Linked DNA regions of Homo sapiens. The protein of the gene in region 1 purifies or fractionates together with the protein of each later gene. This does not show direct contact. Each region holds a gene or a part of one and is shown in the gene's direction. Other genes may lie near its edges.

Evidence for each region.
Region 2: the proteins of INSYN1 (region 1) and IFT81 purify together in Homo sapiens (affinity purification with mass spectrometry; one large-scale study listed by BioGRID and IntAct). This does not show direct contact.
Region 3: the proteins of INSYN1 (region 1) and DTNA purify together in Homo sapiens (affinity purification with mass spectrometry; one large-scale study listed by BioGRID and IntAct). This does not show direct contact.
Region 4: the proteins of INSYN1 (region 1) and RMDN3 purify together in Homo sapiens (affinity purification with mass spectrometry; one large-scale study listed by BioGRID and IntAct). This does not show direct contact.
Region 5: the proteins of INSYN1 (region 1) and CEP135 purify together in Homo sapiens (affinity purification with mass spectrometry; one large-scale study listed by BioGRID and IntAct). This does not show direct contact.
Region 6: the proteins of INSYN1 (region 1) and MINK1 purify together in Homo sapiens (affinity purification with mass spectrometry; one large-scale study listed by BioGRID and IntAct). This does not show direct contact.
Region 7: the proteins of INSYN1 (region 1) and BEND3 purify together in Homo sapiens (affinity purification with mass spectrometry; one large-scale study listed by BioGRID and IntAct). This does not show direct contact.

Annotation. Positions count from the first base shown.
Region 1 is NC_000015.10:73,736,352-73,739,851, reverse strand, and holds part of INSYN1 (inhibitory synaptic factor 1), read left to right. Parts: 3' UTR 1-3,500. UniProt on the Homo sapiens protein: Component of the protein machinery at the inhibitory synapses, probably acting as a scaffold. Inhibitory synapses dampen neuronal activity through postsynaptic hyperpolarization.
Region 2 is NC_000012.12:110,127,357-110,130,856, forward strand, and holds part of IFT81 (intraflagellar transport protein 81 homolog), read left to right. Parts: intron 1-3; 5' UTR 4-24; coding exon 25-168; intron 169-689; coding exon 690-793; intron 794-1,593; coding exon 1,594-1,774; intron 1,775-3,500. UniProt on the Homo sapiens protein: Component of the intraflagellar transport (IFT) complex B: together with IFT74, forms a tubulin-binding module that specifically mediates transport of tubulin within the cilium. Binds tubulin via its CH (calponin-homology)-like region.
Region 3 is NC_000018.10:34,874,298-34,877,797, forward strand, and holds part of DTNA (dystrobrevin alpha), read left to right. Parts: intron 1-941; coding exon 942-1,101; intron 1,102-3,421; coding exon 3,422-3,500. UniProt on the Homo sapiens protein: May be involved in the formation and stability of synapses as well as being involved in the clustering of nicotinic acetylcholine receptors.
Region 4 is NC_000015.10:40,748,755-40,752,254, reverse strand, and holds part of RMDN3 (regulator of microtubule dynamics protein 3), read left to right. Parts: intron 1-76; coding exon 77-269; intron 270-584; exon of another isoform or gene 585-685; coding exon 686-829; intron 830-3,500.
Region 5 is NC_000004.12:56,031,403-56,033,861, forward strand, and holds the end of CEP135 (centrosomal protein of 135 kDa), read left to right. Parts: 3' UTR 1-1,959; downstream 1,960-2,459. UniProt on the Homo sapiens protein: Centrosomal microtubule-binding protein involved in centriole biogenesis. Acts as a scaffolding protein during early centriole biogenesis.
Region 6 is NC_000017.11:4,892,340-4,895,450, forward strand, and holds part of MINK1 (misshapen-like kinase 1), read left to right. Parts: intron 1-62; coding exon 63-173; intron 174-316; coding exon 317-429; intron 430-639; coding exon 640-728; intron 729-946; coding exon of another isoform or gene 947-970; intron 971-1,094; coding exon 1,095-1,258; intron 1,259-1,648; coding exon 1,649-1,754; intron 1,755-1,834; coding exon 1,835-1,972; intron 1,973-2,185; coding exon 2,186-2,294; intron 2,295-2,735; coding exon 2,736-2,903; intron 2,904-2,996; coding exon of another isoform or gene 2,997-3,010; coding exon 3,011-3,111. UniProt on the Homo sapiens protein: Serine/threonine kinase which acts as a negative regulator of Ras-related Rap2-mediated signal transduction to control neuronal structure and AMPA receptor trafficking.
Region 7 is NC_000006.12:107,105,516-107,109,015, reverse strand, and holds part of BEND3 (BEN domain-containing protein 3), read left to right. Parts: intron 1-2,853; exon of another isoform or gene 2,854-2,939; intron 2,940-3,500. UniProt on the Homo sapiens protein: Transcriptional repressor which associates with the NoRC (nucleolar remodeling complex) complex and plays a key role in repressing rDNA transcription.

The DNA of each region.
Region 1 (3,500 bases):
TATATATATATATTTAAACAAATGAAGTCATAATAAAATTTAAAAATGCTAAGGATCTGGCCCCACAGGCCCCAAAGCTTTCACAGAGCTCCTCTTAGACATGAAGATGCCCATTGGCCTCCTAGGTCCCAGGAGGTGTGGGCAGGACTGCCCTTCCTCCGTTCTCATTGCGGGGCTCCTGAAGGGGGTATCTGAAAGTATGTAAAACTGATGGGAGGTCTGATCCTCCTTTTGCTAGCCCCTGAACTCTGTGGTGGAGTCTGGCTGATGGCCAGGGCCATGTCCTAGAGGGGACTCCCCTGCAGGAGGCGGGCTCTAAAGGGAGTGGTGTCCCTTTAGGCCAGGGTTCACAGTCGGGGTGGTCTGGAGACTGCAGGACTCAGGGCCTGGGGGTGGCATCAGTCTGGCCAGGCCCTGCGTCACTTGCACCCACCATCCTTCTACTCCAAGGCAGACTTACTCGGCTATACACAGTCCTGCCTCACCCCCTTCCATCTTAGGGTTGCCTGGGACATAGGGGAATGGCAAGCTGCTCCCATGGCGCAGGCCTCCGTGCTGGGATGCTGGGCATCCACAGAGCCTGAAGGATCGCCTGGGCTGGGCAGGGGTTTGATTGGAGGGTCTGGACCACCCCCAATCCTTTCAGCTCCCATTCTCAGCCTGATTCTGAGACCAAGACCAAAACCTCAGGGCAAAGCCTCAGCCAGTCCTGGCGTGGCCCTAAGCAGACCTGAGATCTGTGCGAGGAAGTAGGCAGCCACTTCCATGGGGCTAAAAATTAGGGCCGTAGACAGGCTCCTGGCCACCTTCACCAGGTGGGCAGCCTTGGAAAGGAGCCCAGTGGTCCCCACTCCGTCCCGATGTCTCCACACCCAGCCCCTGAGCCCATCTCAGCAGGTCCTGAACAAAGATGAGGTTACAGCCTAGAGGTACCAGGGCTTCATCTGGGGCATGGCCAGCACAGGGACAGCAGCTGAATATCCTTGGGATAATAATGACAATTATATTGCTCACATTTATTGAGCAGGTCTCTATGCTACTTCTATGCCGAATACTTTTTATAGCAGCATCTCATTTAATCACCACAATAACCTGATGAGACAGGAAGTATTATTACCCCATTTTTCTTTTTCTTTCTTTCTTTTTTTATTTTTATTTTTTTTATTTTTGAGATGGAGTCTCGCTCTGTCACCCAGGCTGGAGTGCAGTGGGGCGATCTTGGCTCACTGCAACCTCCACCTGCCAGGTTCAAGCAATTCTCCCACTTCAGCCTCCAGAGCAACTGGGACTACAGGCATGCGTCACCACGCCTAGCTAATTTTTGTATTTTTAGTAGAGACGGGGTTTCACCATGTTGGGCAGGCTGGTCTGAACTCCTGACCTCAAGTGATTCGTCAGCCTCAGCCTCCCAAAGTCCCGGGATTACAGGCGTGAGCCACTGTGCCCCCACCTATCCCCATTTTTCAAATGAGATGACTGAGGTTCAAAGTAGTTCAGTACCTGCCCCAAAGCCACAAAGCCTGTGCTACTCTGCCCCCAAGAATTAGTGATTTCCAGGCTGTGCCTGGCTCTGCTAGCTAGCAGCTGTGTGACCTTGGCAAGTCCGTTTGCCTCTCTGAGCCTATCTACCTCCTCTGTATAATGGGTCTGGTAGTCTTCACCTACCTCACCAGCTGCTGTGGAGCTCCGACGAGATGGTGACTGTGAAAGCACTTGACAAACTGAAGGCACTGGACATGCCTTGTGGTCAGTGTGGCCTCAACCCAGATGTCCAGTGATTTCCAGGGCACAGGGGCTTTGAGTGGGATGGCCAAAGAAGACACCTCCATCCAACTGGGAGCCACCCCTGGGTCACAAACACTCCATTGCTTGGTCCCTCGCAGTAGCTCGAGGTCAGAAGTTGACTGCAGCTTGATTCACAGCCCCTCGCTCAGAGCAGGGAGGTGGGACTGGCAGCACAGCAAAGACATCGCTCCTTGGGGGCCTCCCTGTTGCATATTTCAATTAAGGCAGGTTTACAGCCCCCCAGCGTCTGTCCGGAGGGGGCCTGAGCAGCAGGCCTGGCAGCACCCACTGCTCCTGCCTGAAGAGGTGCTATCCAGCCCCGGCTGTGGACATACAGTGAGATTGTACAGGCCGGTCTGGAGCAGCTGCAGGGGATATGATCTGGATAAGACTGAGCAGACCTAGGAGGCTCTGCAATGTAGAGCTTATTCCTCAAGCTCATGGTGAGATTGGAGCCCTAAAGAGTTAGCCAGGGTGCAGCCACCAGTGTGGAAATCCAGGGATGGCGCAGGCCATGGCCAGCTCTTCCCAGCTCACGTCTGAGAACCAAGGGTCTGAGCCCCTCTATCAGCCCCAGGAAATCCTCAGCCATTTGGTGCTGATCAGCGATAGGGCTCTGGTTCACAGGATGAGTGCCAGGGGCTCCTCTGGGGAGAGGGGCCAGCTGCATTCCGCCCCACCCTGAGAGTGAGAAGGGGGCAGTCCCCGACCAGGAATGGGCCTACCTGGTGCTAAGAATGGACATAACAGTTCTCCCTCTGAGGCTTGCATTTCATCTGTCATGGCAAGAGCACTTTCAGGCTCACAGTTTCTCATCTTTTCAACAGTCAGGGAAAAGAAACCTATGGAATAGTTCGCATTTCACAGAGGAAGAAACTGAGGGCCAGAGCTAGGGGTCTCTGACACAGCCATGGGATCCTGCACCCCACACTGGCTCTATGTGACTCTGTAGTAGTGGCTAATGTCCATCAGTCGCCCCCTGCTCCCCTGCCTGGCCATTTGCCCCCAAATAGGGCAGTGGTGGGAGTATATCCTGGAGGAGGGGGAAGTGGGATATAGGTAGTACTTGGCTGACTTCACAATTTTGCTACACCCAGTCTGGACCTCCTGACAGTGGAGTGGGATCCCTGTGGCTTCCTTTTTCTTGTTTTTGTTTTGTTTTGTTTTTTTTTAGATGGAGTCTCCCTCTATCATCCAGGCTGGAGTGCAATGGTGCGATTTCAGCTCACTGCAACTTCCACCTCCCAGGTTCAAACAATTCTCCTGTCTCAGCCACCTGAGTAGCTTGGACTACAGGCACCCGCCACCACCCCAGCTACTAAGTTTTGTATTTTTAGTAGAGATGGGGTTTCACCACATGGCCAGGATGGTCTTGATCTCTTGACTTTGTGATCTGCCCACCTTGGCCTCGCAAAGCACTGGGATTACAGGCGTGGGCCACTACGCCTGGCCAATTTTTTTTTGTTTTGTTTTTTTGAGATGGAGTCTTGCTCCATCTCCCAGGCTGGAGAGCAATGGCGTGATCTCAGCTCACTGCAACCTCTGCCTCCTGGGTTCAAGCGATTCTCCTGCCTCAGCCTCCCAAGTAGCTGGGATTACAGGCACCCACCATCATGCCCGGGTTAATTTTTGTATTTTCTTAGAGATGGAGTTTCACTATGTTGGCCAGCCTCATCTTTGAACTCCTGACCTCCGATGATCCACCTGCCTTGGCC
Region 2 (3,500 bases), on another chromosome or scaffold:
TAGTTAAAATTATAAGACCTAATTATGAGTGATCAAATTAAATTCATTATGGACAGTCTCAATAAGGAGCCCTTTAGGAAGAACTATAATTTAATCACGTTTGATTCCTTGGAGCCAATGCAACTATTACAAGTTCTCAGTGATGTTCTGGCTGAGATTGACCCAAAGGTAAGAGTTTTCTCTTTCTTTTTGATGGGTAGCAGAAAGCCAATTTCTCCCTCTAAATAGCTGTGAGTCTTGGGCACATTATTTAACCTCTCTGAGCTTTATTTTCCATGTCTGTAAAGTAATAGTAAATAATGCATAACATTTCTCTGCTAGCTCAAAAATAAATTATCTATTGGTACCTTATTTCAAAATTATTTATCCACTTCCAGACATAAATAGGTTTGGTTAGGGAATGAAAATTCTTTTACAAAAGGTTTTATTGTATTGCAAGTTAGTTCATGTCTCTCATACACTGGTCCATTCCACTGGATACTTTTTTTGAAGCTTAACATTCTTAATGTGAATCTTGATCTGACTTGGGTGTACCCTCACTTGGAATCTGGGGGCCTCCATCCTTAATCTGTTTTATGAAGAGACCATTGTGCTGTTAAGCTCTAGCAGAACAATTTTGTCAGTGAGTTTAAATATTGTCCTTTGTTACATATACAACAATAACATGTTTTTTTCAATTTCTTTGTTAGCAACTTGTGGATATCAGAGAGGAGATGCCAGAGCAGACAGCCAAACGAATGTTGAGCCTTCTTGGTATTCTTAAGTACAAACCTTCAGGAAATGCCACAGATATGTAAGAATCTGATCACGTATTGAGTTTTTAAAATTATGCTTTAATATCCAAACCTTCATATACTGCAATCAATCTTTGTAGGTAATACCTGGTTTCCCTCATTTGATGGCCTGAGAACATCACTGAGTTTCAAAATAATCTTAAACCTTCTATAAACAAACTCAGAAGTCTTAAGAGGGTCAGTTCTTTGCCTTAATCAAACTGTCTGGTAAATCCACTATACCATTTTATCCTTTATCTGCCATCCTAGATAAAAACAGCTTAAACACAACTTCCTTGGATATGCCAATGATATATTGAGGGCCAAATTTTTCTAATTTTCTAACTAATGTACAGACTGACTTTAGAATAGCCTTGGGGCCAGGCATGGTAGCTCACACCTGTAATCCTAGCACTTTGAGATGCCAAGGTGAGAGGATCACTTGAGCTCAGGAGTTTGAGACCAGCCAGGGCAACATGGCGAAACGCTGCCTCTACAAAAAATACAACAACAAAAAATCAGCTGGGCATGGTGGTTGGTGCCTCTAGTCCCAGCTACTTGGGAGGCTAAGGTGGGAGGTTCACCTGAGCCAGGAGGTTAAGGCTTTGGTGAGCTGCGTTGTGCTCAAGCCTGGGCAATAAAGTGAGACCCTGTCTCAAAAAAAAAAAAAAAAAAAAAAAAGATTCCTTGGGTTTATCTTTTTTAAAAAGTTACAGAAAGCAATTTGGACATTGTAAATCAGATTTTGAGAAAATGCTGTCTCTCTTCAAAGTTTACCGTTAAGTGCGTGTGTGTTTGTGTATGTGTGTTTCTCTCTTAGGAGTACTTTTCGTCAGGGTTTGGTGATTGGAAGTAAACCTGTAATTTACCCAGTGCTCCACTGGCTTCTTCAGAGGACTAATGAACTGAAGAAAAGAGCATATTTAGCTCGTTTTTTAATAAAACTTGAGGTACCAAGTGAGTTTCTTCAGGATGAAACTGTGGCTGACACCAATAAACAGGTAAACAATACATAAATGGTACATTGAAACTGTAATGGATTTCAAGGTGTATATATTCAAATACATGTTACTCTTTTTTTATTTGCTGTCTTTGTAGTTCCAAGTGGCACAAGAAGATAAAACTGTATCAGCTAATGTTCAACTATGGCCACATCTCAAGATAATGGCTTTTGCACACAAATACTGTTTTAGTGATAGGAGTATGTGAATAGAAAAAAAAAAAACCTGATACTAAGATTTTAGAATAATTTATTACTTAGCAATTGTGGGTAAATAGAATCCTGGGTTAAGTCTGCACAGCACTTTGTTCATCAGTAAGGTGACTACATAGTTTTTTATCCAAATTTGAGAGAAACAGACTATCATAACATTTAAACACCAAGACAAATGGTTTAAATTGACACTATCCCAGGCAAATTGGGACATGTGAGGTCCTGGAAAGAAGCAGGCAAAGAACCTAGGCTTGCAGTCTCAAAGCACTTCCCAATCAGACAAAGGGTAGAGATAGATTCCGGAGTTTGAAATCTCAGTGCACCTTTCTTGCCAAGGTTTTGGAGTAACATTGGGCTCTGGCATAAGGTCTTAAAGCTCTTGAGTACTGAGGATTCTGGCTGGTCTGGCTTCTGATCCTGAGATCCCTAAGCACATTGCTGGTCAAAGACTGTGGAGAGAAAGAAACTAGACTCAGATTTAAAAGGACTTTGATTTTTTTTTTTTTTTAAAAAGTGCTTCTGTTTAGTGTTTCACACTTTTATTCCATAGCACTTACATAGACTGATTTGTGCCAAATTGTTGTGAATAGTTTGTCAATCTGTCTTTCCCAATAAATTCTGAGGCCCATAGAGACAGGTGCCATGTCTTATCCATCTTTATTTTCTTCCAGATTTTGTATAGTCACTTCTAATGTTAGCTCAATATTTGGATTGAATCGCAGTAACCAACTGAATATTTTTATTTTTATCCATATATTTTGCTATTTGGGGTAGACATGGCAGTAACTCAAAATAGAGTCAATATTGATCTCTTAAGACAGTATTTATGCAAATAATTATGTCAGATGTCACAGTAGATGCCATGGGAGAAGCACAGCAGAATGAGACCACCTGTCCTTACCTTTGAATATTTTACACAATGTGGGAAATAGAGAAGTGTAAATGTGTACTTTCTCCTTCCTAGGCTCCCACCATCGATAAATCTGATAAAAATTAATTTATCTAGAGGAAGTTGATTAAGTCTTTTTTTTTTTTTTTTCCGAGACAGAGTCTTGCTCTGTTGCCCAGGCTGGATGGAGTGCAGTGGTGCAATCTCGGCTCACTGCAACCTCCGCCTCCTGGGTTCAAGTGATTCTCCTGCCTCAGCCTCCTTAGTAGCTGGGATTACAGGTGCCCACCACCACACCCAGCTAATTTTTGTATTTTTAGCAGAGATGGGGTTTCATGATGTTGGCCAGGCTGGTCTCGAACCCCTGACCTCATGATCTGCCCACCTCGGGTTCCAAAGTGCTGGGATTACAGGCGTGAGCCACGGTGCACGACCTGATTAAGTCTTTGCTAAATATGCTCAGCTAGTTGATGAAAGAATTAATGGTAATAAAGACATACTTGTTCTTGAAGCATATCTGACAGGTATCTCTCTCTATATATATGTATATACATATACATATATATATAAAATGAGAAAGAGATATACACACACACAATGATTTACAATATATAATGATTTACAC
Region 3 (3,500 bases), on another chromosome or scaffold:
AACACCTAATCTGTTGTGTATGCACTCAAGGGTCTCCTTGCATTTTCTTACGCATGTGGCTGACTTCTTTTGTCAACTAATTATTAAAACAGGGAGAATATTTCCAAGGCACCTCATTTAGAGACAAATCCTTAAGATTCAAAGTGTGACAGTCTCAGAATAGTTTCATGCCAAAAACTGTAGTGCAAAGATAAGTTCCTTCAGTTGTTTTCTACTTTTTTCTTTACTTGTCTTTAAATCCTACTATTCTTATTGTCCTGCTAGAATACTGCTTTTTCATAGGAGAAGAGAAGGACATTTCCTGCAGGAAATAATACCAAAAAATTAGAAAACAAGGTTTCTTCTTCTTCTTCTTCCCCATTGGAATCCCTGAGTTACTAATTTGACAAAATCAGCTTTTACTATAAAATAGGGATAAAACAATTTACACTTCATTTGATTCTTAATTTGAGACTTAATATGCACAATATTGTATGACATGATTTAAACTCTTATCCTCTAAAGATAATGCTAGTACAGTCAGGTTGAAAATTCAGAAAGCATCCATTGCAAATAGTCTTCTAGTTTGTATTTTAAACTTTCTCCTTAATGTCTTCTTAGTCCTCGGAGACCTTCCTTCAAGGAGAAAGTATCCACACCTTGTAATTATCTGCATTTAACAGTACCTTCATTTTATGGGCACATGTCCCATATACTGTAGAGCAATGCTGTACTAATAGTTTTAGCTTTCAATATTTAACCCAAACTTCAGATTACATACAATAAGGTCCTAAATTATCTGCACCTGCAAATTAGCTTTAGGATTACCAACACAATTACCTAGGATTTCCTCCTGCTTTGAAATTTCATTGTCACTGTTTTCAACAATCAACTGAGGCATTGGGGATGACATATGACATTTTCTTGGGAAAGCAAATTAATGACCTGCATTGTCTCTCCAGACTCAGGGGGCAGGCTCTCCCCGCTCCTCCCCCAGCCACACCATCAGCAGGCCAATTCCCATGCCCATCCGGTCAGCGTCAGCCTGCTCCACCCCGACGCACACGCCGCAGGACTCCCTCACAGGAGTAGGGGGAGATGTACAAGAGGCATTTGCACAAAGTAAGTGGCTTTATTTTTTGTTGTGGTCTGCTTTTATGTGGCAAATAGGTCACCAAGGTCTATTGAGTGGTCAAGAGTTGTCAGAACCACATGTGACTATTGTAGGGTCTTTCATGGCTGGTGTCAGAGCCTGGCCTGCCAGCCATTTTGGGAACTCCCTACACCAATTTGTTCTCACTTCACGATTTTACCTTCCTTTGGCTTTTGTTGCCCTGCCTTATTTTTTAGTAAGTCTTTGTTCATCAAAAGACAGGAAATCTTTTCACCAATACCCCCAGAAAACTTCATAAATGTAATCTATTTTTTTTAATTCTTAGAGATTTTCTTATCTCATATTGTCTTTTCTTTATATTAAAGTCAAGACTGAGATAAGTAATCACAGCTCTTTAGCAATGAGGTAACCAAGAAGGACATTTAGTCATTTGACAGATTCCCTGTTCTGATGCCCCGAAGAGTTGAATCATTGCCTCTGTAAGGCAGGGCTACAGGGTTAAGCCTCTGCAGTTAGAGGAGTACAAAGAGGGATGGGGATGCCAGCCAGCACTTTCCCATGACAGGGAGAGTAACTTTATTAATTTAGAAATATTTTTAACACTTTTTAAAACCTCTTCTTACTATCACTTTTTAAATTTATAGAGAATAATAATAAAAAAATCATTCTGTAGACCTTCACCGGCAGCTTTCATTCCCAGAAGTAACCACTATTAACAGTTTGATCCTTCCCAAAGTTTTGCTTTTGTGTAAATAGATATGTTTAAGGATGTGATTATAGACACATACTCTTTTTTTCACACAAATAGGATCATGCATTGCATTTTGGGGTCTGCAATTTGCATTTTCTTTAAATTAGCAATATATCATTAACATTCTTCGAAGTCTTCACATAGAGATCTAAGGAAAAGAGAGACATGTTTGAATATGGGTTTTAAGGCAAAAGAGATCATAAACAAAGTTAAAAGACAGAAAACAGTCTTGAGGAAACCATTTCCAGTATATGTGTCAATCAAGTTTCATAATTTCAGTTATACAAAAATCATGTAGAGATCAGAAAGAATAGACACCACCAAAACAAAAACAGGTGAAATATACGAATAGACAGAAGAACAAAGAGAAATTGCCAATAAATATATGAAAAGATGTTCAACCTCTAATTACAGAAATATAAATTTTAATAAGTATCACTTTTTGCCTAGAAGATTAAAAAAATGTTTTGAAACATCATAATATCCAGGGATAGCAAAAGTGCGAGGAAAAAGGTACTCTCGTCCATGTAGAGGGGTGATAAAATCTTAACACACTTCAATGAGAGAGAATGATGAACTCTCTACTCTGAGGGAAAAGGAAGGATCTATATTAGAACTTTTTCTTCTAGGCACTGAATATAACTCAAGAGTTTTTAAAAATGTAATTCACAAAATAACTTTTAATTTTTAGAAAGAAAATATCCCTTCTCTTAATCATATTTTAAAGAAATGTACTATATTTTAAATCAATTTGTGATTTCCATTATAATTAATGTTTTTACTTAACTACTCTGATTTTTTTAATTTAAACATTTATTATTTTATTTAGTTAGTATTACTTTCTGAAAAATGACGGAATGAAATTCCATTAACCCTTAGTGTGCCTGAAACAAAATAATAATCTTTCTCTGCCATAAAGAAACATAGTCTAAGTTCCAATTTATAGTACCAGACATGCATCTGCCCATGTCTTGGCAGAAGAAACAAGAATCCTCACCCCTTTCTCACGCTCTGGGGGCATTCAGTGCATGTGGGTTTCCCATTCCCAAGTGGTACTTACACTGGCAGGAAGAGCTCCAAGAGCCCTGATAGGAGACAGCGCATGTCCTAGTAGAGACCAGAATCTAAAGGGCTCAGCCACCAGGTAAGGGCAAGAAAAATAATAGCAGCTAGGAAGGCGCAGCTCTCCTGGAAAACCTGATTTTTCATCTGTGTGGATTATTCTTAAGAAGGGTGACCACACGCACTGGTTTACCTGGAACCATCCCAGTTTTGCCAGGTCAGCCAGCCTTATTCATACTGCTCTCTTTCACCTTCAAAATTGTCCCCATATGGACAAATAATATATGAAACTCCATCATTAGCCATGTCTTCTTACTGCAGGACCCACTGCCCTAAGCAGTGTTTTGTTGTTGTTGTTGTTCTTGTTTCAGGAAATGAACTAAAGCACTTCTGAAAAGGAGAAGTCTTAGAAGTTTTCTTGCTTTAGGTTATTAATGGGAAGGATAAATAAACAACATAAAAATTTAGGATAGAAGGAAGCTTTGGTTTTTTAAATTATTTCTTCTTCCCTGAAGGTTCAAGAAGAAACTTAAGGAATGACTTGCTAGTGGCTGCAGATTCCATCACTAACACTATGTCCTCTCTTGTGAAAGA
Region 4 (3,500 bases), about 33 Mb from region 1:
CTTGAATTCTGGGTGTGAGATCTCTTCCCCACCATATTCCTGTGTGTCACTGGCTCCCATTCGTTTCCCCCTTCAGTGATGCTCCTGCGGGCTGTCCCAGGTGGGGCTGGAGATGCCTCAGTGCTGCCCAGCCTTCCACGGGAAGGACAGGAGAAGGTGCTGGACCGCCTGGACTTTGTGCTGACCAGCCTTGTGGCGCTGCGGCGGGAGGTGGAGGAGCTGAGAAGCAGCCTGCGAGGGCTTGCGGGGGAGATTGTTGGGGAGGTCCGGTGAGTAATGCGGCTTCTTCTCCTGCTTTATCCCTCCCCTGCAGCTTTTCAGCTGGGGTGTGTTCTGGCCTTCGCTGTCTGTCTCTAAAGAATAAACCAGTTCTATAGCTTCTAGCCTAATCTGGGTTGAAGCTGTACATTTGGTACCTCGCCTTGCACATGCTCCTTGCTGCTTCTGGACTCTCATGGTTGATCTGTTGTAGCAGCTGAAGCGCTCTGTTTGCCTAACCTAGTCTGTCTGTGCGGGCTGGGCCCAGGAAGCTGCCCTGCTTGCCCTCCTGAGGGTTAGAGACTTAGGATTTTCTCTGCTTTTAGCCCTTTAATGAGGAGCAGTAGTAAGAGGCACCCCATGGTGAGCAGAAAGACAAGCTGGATGGGACCTAATGGTACCCTTCGGGATGGGGCCTGCTTTCCAGATGCCACATGGAAGAGAACCAGAGAGTGGCTCGGCGGCGAAGGTTTCCGTTTGTCCGGGAGAGGAGTGACTCCACTGGCTCCAGCTCTGTCTACTTCACGGCCTCCTCGGGAGCCACGTTCACAGATGCTGAGAGTGAAGGGGGGTGAGTTGTCTCTCTTGGAGGCAGTTATGGCTACAGCCAGGTTGTGTTTTGTAAAAGTATTATCAATGGAAAATTCAAACCAAGCTGCTGCAAATGATTTTTGGAACAGGTAAGAGTATAATAAATACAGAAGAGTTGAAACAAAAAACCCATCCAATTTATGTCATTCAGACAAATGTAGATGTTAATAGCAGTTATTGCTTGCATCTGTTATCTTAGTTTATTACATAGTTATGATATATTATTTGGGCATTTTTCTGTGTTATCACAAGGACTTGATAAGCATTGTTTGACTTTGTTCCTTTCCTTGGGTGGCTGAGCTGGTATACGGAGATGTCTAAGCACGAAGCATGCTCCTCCCTGGGAGTCACCCTCTTCCCACAGGGGAGCCTTGCCTGTGATCCTTTGCATTTTTACAGGTGGGAGGTGGATGTCCTGAGTTCTCAGTGGCCCAGGAGGGCTGACGATAGGCCTTTCTGTGAGGCGGGGCAGCTGGCAGGAGTCTGGTGGACAGCCTCCTCCAAGTCTGGTCATGCTAAGGGTGTTTTGAGTTTAAACCACTAGCACCACTTTGAAACTCTGGTCCCAAGGATAGAGTGTGATGTCAGTAGCAGCATCTGACCCATCTGACCTTATCTGCTGCTAGCTCCAGTTATTCAGGTAGCCTGTGTGAGGCCTAGAGGCCGATTTCTCCTTGTCCAGCCTTTATTCTTCTTAAGGGAAAGACTGGTGTAGAGAACAGCCAAGTTTTATGCTGGATCAGAGGAATTAGCTATAAGCAGGTACATGGAAACTAGAAGTTAAAATCAGTCCAGGTGTGGTGGTGGCTCATGGGTAATCCCAGCACTTTGGGAGGCCGAGACAGGAGGATTGCTTGAGTTCAGGAGCTTGAGACCATCCTGGACAAGGCAGCAAGACCACGTCTCTACATAAAATAACTACCTGGGGGAGGCCAAGGTGGGCGGATCACCTGAGTTCAGGAGTTTGAGACCAGTCTGGCCAACATGTCGAAACCCTGTCTCTACTAAAAATACAAAAATTAGCCAGGTGTGGTGGTGCATGCCTGTAATCCCAGCTAATCGGGAGGCTGAGGCAGGAGAATTGCTGGAACCCAGGAGGCAGAGGTTTCAGTGAGCCGAGATTGCGCCACTGCACTCCAGCCTGTGAGACAGAGTGAGACTCCATCTCAAAGAAAAAAAAAAAAAAAAAAAAAAACGAGCTGGGCATGGTGGCATGGGTCGGTAGTCCCAGCTACTTGGGAGGCCGGGAGTTTGAGGATGCAGTGAGCCATAATTGTGCCACTGCACTCCAGCCTGGGTGACAGAGTGAGACCCTGCCTCAGAAAAATAAAATACAATGTAAATACTAGGTGATAGGAATTTTTCAGCTCCATTATAATCGTATGCACCCACTGATATGCGCAGTCCGTGGTTGACTGAAATGTCATTATCACCAACGCTGGATTTGATGAGTGCTCCGGGGTCTCCAGAAACCTGTGGAGTGGTGGTGAAGAGCTCTCTGCTCTTCCATGGGGGACTGCTGTTGCCTGGGTTGTCAGATCCCTGTTATCTGCATTCTCAAGGGCAAACAGAGGTGGCCCTTTTCTATTCAATTTACCTAAATGGCTCTGGGCCAAGAGATGCTTCCAGAAGTTGTGTTAAAGAGGGGGCAAAAATGAAATTAATATTTGATACATCTGAATTGAAGAGAGAGACCGAGGAAGTAGTTGATAGTGGGCACTGAGATGTAAAGAACATCTCTGCAACCCAAGGAAGCAGGCCACTTGGGTGGGGAATTGATGTTTGAACTCTGTAAGGAGGTTGAACAGAAGGAGAGGTCACAGCTCTGCCCAAAATCAAAGAAAGCTTGAGGCCCTTCACAACTGTTTTTGTTTTTGTTTTGTTTTGTTTTGAGACAGGGTCTCACTCTGTTGCCCAGGCTGGAGTTCCATGGTGCCATCACAGCACAGCAGCCTCAACCTCTTGGGCTCAAGTGGTGCTCCTGCCTCAGCCTTCTGAATAGCTGGGACTACAGGCATGTGCCACCATGCCCAGCCAATTCTATTTATTTTTTTTGTACAGATGGGGTCTCACTGTGTTGCCCAGCCTGTTCTTGAACTCTTGGCCTCAAGCAGTTCTCCCACATCAGCCTCCAAGTGCTGAGATTACAGGTATGAACCACCGCACCTGGTCCTCTTTGTGATGATTTAAAGAAGTTGTACTAGGCCAGGCGCGGTGGCTCAGGCCTGTAATCCCAGCACGTTGGGAGGCCAAGGCAGGTAGATCACCTGAGATCAGGAGTTCAAGACCAGATGGCCAACATGGTGAAACCTCGTCTCTACTAAAAATACAAAAATTAGCCAGGCATGTTGGCAGGCACCGGTAATCCCAGCTACCTAGGAGGCGGAGGCAGAAGAATCACTTGAACCCAGGAGGTGGAGGCTGTAGTGTGCCAAGATGGCACCACTGCACTCCAGCCTCGGTGATAGAGCAGTACTCTGTCTCAAAAAAAAAAAAAATTACTGAGGCTGGGGTGTGGAGGCTCATGCCTATAATCCCAGCACTTTGGGAGGCTGAGGTGGGCAGATCACTTGAGGTCAGGAGTTCGAGACCAGCCCGGCCAACATGGTGAAACCCTGTCTCTACTAAAAATAGAAAAATTAGCTGGGCGT
Region 5 (2,459 bases), on another chromosome or scaffold:
CAGAACAGTAATGAAATATTTGAAGTACTTGTTGCTGAAAATCATGAACATGGACACAAATTCTACCTCTGTCAACTTTTATTTAAATCAGTGAATATGTTAAAAAGTTTGGTTTAAAAGAACTATATCTATATGTATATTTTCATATATATGACAGAACAAGAATATGTATTAATAGTGCCTAATGTATCTATATTTTTATTATTCATGAATTAAATTACTAAAAGTATGTTTATACTGTGAATTAATATAATGTATTCACATTATTCTTTAATAATCTGTTTATTAATAAGCCATGATATGTGTATGTAAATATTCTTACAGTACTTGTTTTTAGTTGTCATGCCTATGTTTAGACCATATCTTAATGTATTCACAAAGAATTATCAACTTTGATGCTATGCTGTCATGCTTAACTTTTTCTTCTTAAAATTATTCATAGATCTACTGTCTGTTGTCAAGGGGAATATATTCAGGTCTAGTCTTCTTATAATAGCAGAGGTCTTGGTAAAATAACTACCATATATAACGTGTTATTGCCATCTAGAAGAACTATGATGAGAAAGATACATTTATATATTATGTAAAATGTTAACTATCATCATATGGACTCTATGTAACACAAATTCAAAAGCAAACTAAAAGCTATATGCAGAGTTTTGTATAAAACAATAGAACAGAAATTTGGGACATTTTTCTAGGAAATAAAATTCCTCGGTGTATTAATCTAAGGTTTCAAAGTATAAAAGTATATGGGGTAGGCCGGGTGCAGTGGCTCACGCCTGTAATCCCAGCACTTTGGGAGGCCGAGGCGAGTGGATTTCCTAAGGTCAGGAGTTTGAGACCAGCCTGAGCAATGTGGTGAAACCCCATCTCTACTAAAAATACAAAAATTATCTGGGCTTGGTGGCGGGCACCTGTAATCCCAGCCACTTGGGAGGCTGAGGCAGGAGAATTGCTTGAACCCGGGAGGTGGAGGCTGCGGTGAGCCAAGATCATGCCATTGCACTCCAGCCTGGGTGACAGAGTAACACTCTGTCTCAGAAAAAAAAAAAAAGAAAAATATATGGGGTAAATACAGTAAAACGTTTTGTTAAATTCCAATATACATTCAGTGATACCACTCTTTTTCTTCTAAGCCTGTGTGTTATAATTTACCAGTTCCCCAAAATGCCATTTTTAACGCCGAACTGTGTAATATACATGGAAAACAGCTTTTTACAATTAATTTTCAAAGTTGTAATTTTAAAGAATTTGGGTGTATACCTATGTTAATGAAACAACAGAAGTACAAAAAAGAATATCAGATACAAAAATCAATCGTGAAGAAAATCTGTTCTTAATATATTTCATTATGATTGAAAAACATAAAAACTAACATAGGAAAGTGAATGATCAGTTACTTATGATATATTTTGTTTCCTCTTGTGGTTTAATAAAGTGAAGTGTGTGTGTGTGTGTGTGTGTGTATACCTGGGGGTGGGCAGTGCTCTTTTTCTAAAACTAATATGGCTTATATATCTGAATTATGCCCTTTTTAGTGTGTATTAGGATGTGGGCTGGTTTGCTTTTCTACCACCTTTGTAATTTTATGTATCCCATCTCCTTTGTGTGAATTCATATATTATAGCAAAATACAAGAGACATGGGACTGTTTGCAATACCATATGGAAATCTTTTAATAAATATATGTAAATAAAATAAAAAATATTTGTCTCCACCTTTTCCCCAAAAGCAACAGCAAGACATATTTTGTTAGATATTTTATTTTTAATGTTTTCTATAATTTAAAAATGTATAGCCTGCCAAATGTTGTTTTCATAACCATGATATTGTTTTGAAAAAATTTTATCTTAAAATACTGAATGTTCTGACCTTTTATAGATGTTTTTGATTTTGTTTTAAATAATTTTAAATTATGGAGCTTGACCTAGATTTGCCAATAAACTTTCTAGCCTATTTATTTTCTCTTTCTTACAAATAAGGTTTTTATAATTTTATATTAGGGATACTCTTAATTCTAAAATTAAGTAAAGTTTATTCAAATCAAACTTTATCATGGTGGGATATGGACAAATCCCTGAACATAGGTGCCAGGCACCTTTCTTAACTGACTTTTATTTCCATTTAGTTCAAAATAATAAGAAATGAAGCCAAAGTTTATTTTTGTTATCTGTCCACAAAATGGTTAAACGTGTGTGCGTATGAATATACGCTCTTCTCACTTGCAAATGCTCTTTGTTGAGCACATTGACTCCCATTAGACTATGACACCTGTTGCCGTACCTTATTGTAATTCATCATACAAGTGATCTCATACTTCTCTCCCTAATTCTTAGAAGACTTTAGCAAGTGGCTTACTATCTTTCTACCATTAGTTCTATTATCAGCCTTTTTATATCAGTATCTTCTTGGGCCAATGGTTATTGACTATACCTGCACATTGTAGTTATCTGGAG
Region 6 (3,111 bases), on another chromosome or scaffold:
CCAGCCCCATCACCTCAGCGCCCCCCCGCCGCCCCCTCGGCACCCCTGTGCTCCCTTCACAGACCTCGCAGCAACTCCGCCTGGCAAATCTATCTGCAAAGGCGGGCAGAGCGGGGCACCCCAAAGCCTCCAGGGCCCCCTGCTCAGCCCCCTGGCCCGCCCAACGCCTCTAGGTAATAGAGTTGTCCCCCAACTCACTCTCACCTCTCACTTCTGCCACCCGCTTCCCTGGTGATGGCTCCCTCTGCAGTGCAGCTCAGCACCCCAGAGAAGGGAGCACCGTGCCTCCCTGACCCTGACTCTGCCCCCCCAACAGTAACCCCGACCTCAGGAGGAGCGACCCTGGCTGGGAACGCTCGGACAGCGTCCTTCCAGCCTCTCACGGGCACCTCCCCCAGGCTGGCTCACTGGAGCGGAACCGCGTGGGAGGTATGTGAGCCAGGGCTGGGCAGCCTGCTCTGGGCCTGGGGGCTTATCACCATGGACCCTGCCTTTGGTGGCTTTGGACTGGGGCACCCACACGGACAGGGAGGACCTGTGTGGGTATGGAACTTGGGGCTGAGTTCTGGGGCTCAGGGTGTGGGCTTGAGGCCATCCCTTGTTCAGGCATCAGTGACCTTCTTCCACCCTGCCGTCCAGTCTCCTCCAAACCGGACAGCTCCCCTGTGCTCTCCCCTGGGAATAAAGCCAAGCCCGACGACCACCGCTCACGGCCAGGCCGGCCCGCAGTGAGTCACCTGGTGGCAGGCATGGCCTGCCTCATCCTGGTTTGGGGCTTAGCCTCAGGGTGCTGGGTGTCAGGGGTGGGGTCTCCGCTGATCTACCGAGAAGGGCTGTGGGGATGGAGGGACTGGTGCTTCTCATGGTGCTAACCTTTCCTAACCTCTCTCCTAACCTCTCTCCTAACCTCTCTTCTGGCTCTTTCTTCCCCTGCGGCCCCTCCCAGAGCTATAAGCGAGCAATTGGTGAGGTTAGTGAGATGGGCCTGCTTGTGGGAGCCCCTCCTGTCGCCCTGCTGGGGTGTCCCGGCACCCTTTGTCTACCTCCACCCAGGCCCAGCTTCTCCCTGCCCCTCACGTGGCTCCTCCCTGCAGGACTTTGTGTTGCTGAAAGAGCGGACTCTGGACGAGGCCCCTCGGCCTCCCAAGAAGGCCATGGACTACTCGTCGTCCAGCGAGGAGGTGGAAAGCAGTGAGGACGACGAGGAGGAAGGCGAAGGCGGGCCAGCAGAGGGGAGCAGAGATACCCCTGGGGGCCGGTACGGCATCGGGAGTGGGGCCCTCCCACTCCAAGGCACAGGGAGGGAGGGGAAGTGGCAGTGGGGAAGAGGTGGGGCTTTGGGGCAAGTCTGAGGGAGAGCGGCTCCCTTCTCTAGAGAGTGGGGTGAGGGTGCAGGTTCCTGTCTCTCTCCCGCTGCCCTGTGTGTTGTGGGGTGGCCTCTTCAAGTGCCTGTCTGCCCCTGTGCCAGCCTGCCCTGTGTGCCATGCAGGGAAGCACCTCACGGTGGAGCAGGGGCTACACCGTGAGGGTGGAGCAGGTTGTGTTTTGAATAGAGACAAAAGCCTGGGCTCTGGCTGCCATCTGCTGCCTTTGGCACTTCTGTGGCCACGGGCAGGACCTGGAGGGGCCCCACCTTCCTCTCTCACAGCAGCGATGGGGATACAGACAGCGTCAGCACCATGGTGGTCCACGACGTCGAGGAGATCACCGGGACCCAGCCCCCATACGGGGGCGGCACCATGGTGGTCCAGCGCGTGAGTGAGCCTCTGCTCCCTCCCCTGTACCTGTGTGTGCCCTCCTCAGCCCCACGCCAACCCTGCCCTCTGTCCTGTAGACCCCTGAAGAGGAGCGGAACCTGCTGCATGCTGACAGCAATGGGTACACAAACCTGCCTGACGTGGTCCAGCCCAGCCACTCACCCACCGAGAACAGCAAAGGCCAAAGCCCACCCTCGAAGGATGGGAGTGGTGACGTAAGTGGGCCGGAGGCAGGTCCGCCGGGAGAGAAGAGCCCTGGCGATGGGCAGGAGGTCCCGGTGCTGGGTAACGGCAGAGGATGGGGCGGAGCGCTGGGAGCTGGACAGCGGGGGTGCCAGTTGGGGAGCTGGAGCCTGGGGAACAGCAGCAGGGGCAGGGCCGCAGCTGGACTTGCACTTGTTTGCCTGACTGCTGTCCCCCTACCACAGTACCAGTCTCGTGGGCTGGTAAAGGCCCCTGGCAAGAGCTCGTTCACGATGTTTGTGGATCTAGGGATCTACCAGCCTGGAGGCAGTGGGGACAGCATCCCCATCACAGGTGAGGACAGGAGGACAGACCTGCTGTGAGGCCAGGGTCCAGGGGCAGCCTGGAGGGGAGCACAGTGGTCTTGAGACGCAGCCTCACAAAGCATAGCCACAGGACCTCTCCCTTGGGCCCTAGCACCTGCCTGGGCACAGAGGCAAGGAAGAGCCTCTGAGACCCCTCCTTCCTGTCCCACAGGACAGGAAATGCTCAGAGTTGCCAGGGGACCTGGGCAAAGACTCAAAGCTAACAAGTGACAGAAATGGGACTTGAGCCAGACCTTTTGACTCCAAGTCCAGCACTCTATCCCCCTCTCCCATGCACCTCCTCTCCTCCTGTCTTTCTCCTCCTTTCTGCGTATTATGAGGTGCCAAGACCTGATATAGGGGATGGAGGTAAAAAGAGATGGGGTGAGAAGCTGCAGCCCCTCCTCCCACCTCCTCCTCCTTCTGGCAGCCCTAGTGGGTGGAGAGGGCACTCGGCTCGACCAGCTGCAGTACGACGTGAGGAAGGGTTCTGTGGTCAACGTGAATCCCACCAACACCCGGGCCCACAGTGAGACCCCTGAGATCCGGAAGTACAAGAAGCGATTCAACTCCGAGATCCTCTGTGCAGCCCTTTGGGGTAAGCCAGGGCAGGGACAGCTGAGGAGGCTCTGGCGTGGCTCTTGTGCTCCTGGTTAGGTGAGGGCCTGGCTGAGCCTCTGACCTGCCCAAGGGCTCCTGTTGCAGGGGTCAACCTGCTGGTGGGCACGGAGAACGGGCTGATGTTGCTGGACCGAAGTGGGCAGGGCAAGGTGTATGGACTCATTGGGCGGCGACGCTTCCAGCAG
Region 7 (3,500 bases), on another chromosome or scaffold:
TGGCCAACATGGCCAAACCCCATCTCTAGTGAAAAATACAAAAATTAGCCAGGTGTGGTGGCACATGACTGTTGTCCCAGCTACTCGGGAGGCTGAGACAGGAGAATTGCTTGAACGCGGGATGCAGAGTTGCAGAGAGCCGAGGTCGCACCACTGCACTCCATCCTGGGCAACAGAGCGAGACTCCATCTCAAATCAATCAATCAATCAACCCTCTTAATTTTTTTTCTACCTGTGGCCACCTCTCCTCTTGTCTGATTTTCAGTTATTTCTGACTAGTGAAACACAGTTGCATCAGTATCAGGGCATTGATTGCTCAATTGAATAAGTCATTTACTGGCCTTTTCTTGTATGTCAGGGGCTGTTTTGGTTTGAGCATGGAGCTAGCAGAGCGAAGGACTGAGGCTTGCTTAGGATTGGGGGTGCAGTATACACCCAACTGCCCCGAACCCTAATCAGCTTGTGTGGTCACAAAATAAAACACTTGATAAAATGGGAAGTGCAGCGGAAACTCAGCTTATACCTCCTAGGAAAATTAGTCACCGTTGTGCAGTCAGTCACATGGCTGGATGCTGGAATGTGCGGTCCCTCCTTCCACCTTGAGCCTCAGCTTCTGCATGCCAAGGTTAATACGCAGAGTCTCCTGTGAGCCATGTGAGGAGGTAGCCCTCCACGAGGTTGGGGAGAACGTAAGTGGAACTTCTTAGCTGAGGAAGATGGCACATTTACTCAAGACTCAGAAGACGCAAGTGACCAAAGATTAAGACGCCAAATCACAGGCGCGCGGGCAGGGTTGTGCGGCTGTGCTTGGCTGCATGCGGAAGATGAGGTTGTGCTCTGACTGAATAAGGAAGGCAGCTACAATTACAGCTTTAGAAAAACTCTGGGGAAAATTGCCCTGGTTTTGTGAGGACTGGTATTTTTCAAACTGCATTTGCAGATGTGCCTAAAAATAAAAACAAATTGCGAACATGTCCTGCAAGTCCCTTGGGCAGGATGCCACTGCCAAGGGGGCTGGGTCCTGAGACCCTTGAGGCTCCCAGCCGGTCCTGTGAACCCAGAGACCCGCGGCACCAGAGTGGATGGCATGGGAACATTCCTCCTGTCCTCAGGGAGAGCATTTTATTTGGTTTCATCCCCCTCCCTCCAGTTTCTATGTTTCATTGGAAAGAAAAGTTACTAAACCTTTTTAATCTTTTAAGCCATTTTATTTAATTTGCAGTTCTTAAAAATTCACTATTAAAATGTACTTTAGGCTGGGCGGGATGGCTCACACCTGTAATCCCAGAACTTTGGGAGGCCAAGGCAGGTGGAACTTTGAAGCCAGGAGTTCAAGGCCATCCTGGCCAACATGGTAAAACCCCGTCTCTACTGAAAATACAGAAATTAATCAGGCATGGTGGTGCCCACCTGTAATCCCAGCTGCTTGGGAGGCTGAGGCAGGAGAATCGCTTGAACCCAGGAGGCAAAGGTTGCAGTGAGCCAAGATTGTGCCACTGCACTCCAGCCTGGGCGACAGAATGAGACTTTGTCTCAAAAAAATAAAAAAATAAAATGCACTTTAAACATCTTTTCCTTAAAAAAAAAAAAAGAAGCTTTATAATAGGTAACTTTGAGTGCTATGTGTCAGACACTTTCTCCTTTGTAGTTTTCACAAAAACTTTTTGAGGTGAGGTAGATGTGTCCAGCTCCTATTACAGAATACAGCTTGGATGGGTAGGTAAACAGCTGGCCTGGTGTTAGATGCTAAATATTTTAACTCGGTTAAAAACCTTTTTGGGCTGGGTGCAGTGGCTCATACCTGTAATCTCAGCACTTTGGGAGGCCGAGGCGGGTGGATCAGCTGAGGTCAGGAGTTCCAGACCAGCTGGGCCAACATGGTGAAACTCTGTCTCTACTAAAAATACAAAAATTAGCCGGATGTGGTGGTGCATGCCTGTAATCCCAGATACTTGGGAGGCTGGGGCAGGAGTATCACTTGAACCCGGGAGGCAGAGGTTGCAGTGAGCCGAAATTGTGCCACTGCACTCCAGTCTGGGCGACAGAGCGAGACTCCGTCTCAAAAAAAAAAAAAAAAAAGCCCTCTTTGAAAACTGGGCTGGGTTAAGGGTCAGGTGTGGTGGCTTGCATCTGAAATCCCAGCACTTTGGGAGGCTGAGGCCGGAGGGTTGCTGGAAGCCCGGAGTTTGAGACCATTTTGGGCAACACCTGGAGACCCTGTCTCTACAAAAAATAAAAAATTAGCTGGGTGTGGTGGCGTGCACCTATAGTCCTAGCTACTCACAGGCTGAGATGGGAGAATCATCTGAGCCCAGGAGTTCAAGGCTACAGTGAGCTCTGATCATACTGCTGCACTCTGCCTGGGTAACAGAGCAAGACCCCCATCTCTGGGGAAAAAAAAAATGAAAAAACTGGATTAAAAGCCAGGGTTTCATGCAGTTCCATCTGACTCCAAAGTTTAGTAAAGAATTCCATTTTTTGGAGGGTCACCTGCACTAATTCCTGCCTTGGTCACAGACTGGCCCATCTGGCTTGTTGACTTGCTCATGCACCTGCACCCAGCTCACAGCTTAGCAGGAAGAGGGAAAGAAAGCTGGGAGGTCATGGCCCATTCCTCAGTCCCAGCTTCCTTGGAAGGCTGGAATGAAGCTCTCATGCCGGGAGTCTCCTGAAGTCCTTCCTACTCCCTGGTCTCAGCTGCATCCCTTGGGCAGCACAAATCACCCCACCCCCGCCCCGTTCCCTATCTGCACAAGAAGCAGTGCTGGTGGGGACTGTGTGGGTTGACATATGTAACACTTAGAACATGAAGCCTGTGCCACATGAATACTAACTACTGTCCCCCTCTTCTAGGTTTAATTTTTAGAAGTCAATGTCACCTGTAGCAGAGAAGTTCCTTGAAATCAAATCAGACATATGGCAATTGTGAAAAGATTGAAGTAAGGTTTAGGTCTTGGTTAAATTTTTAAAATCCTTGAGTTTGTTTTGTTAATGACTGAGCATATTCTCTCCACTTTACCTTTTGTGTGTGGCAGGGGCCACACAGCCACCATCCCTATTGTTTCAGGTTCCAATCACATTCCTGTTCTGGGGCCCACATTCTCAAGGGAATCTTCTGGTAGTGAGAGTTTGCTTCAGTTTGCATCTGGAAACAGCTCTTAGGGGTAAGGGGGATTTGCCCCTGAGTGGCATGAGGTCAGGGCTGCTGGGGCCAGGTCTTCCTGGACTGGCACCTCAGCACAGTGGCGAGGACATCTCTGATCTAGCAGGGTAAAATCCGGAGTCAGCTGGCTGGAATTTGAACCTCCAGGTTGCAGGAAGCCCAAGTACTTCCCATTTCTGGGCCTGCCGCTTGTCCTGTGTGACTCCCCGGCCCACAGGCCTCTGGCAGCTCTGATTAGGCTCACGCTGCTGTCCCAAAAGACCTGGTCTGTCTGCTCTCTCCACAGCAACTGACTATTCAAAGAACTTGATAGAAAGGTACCCCGGGCCACTCCCAG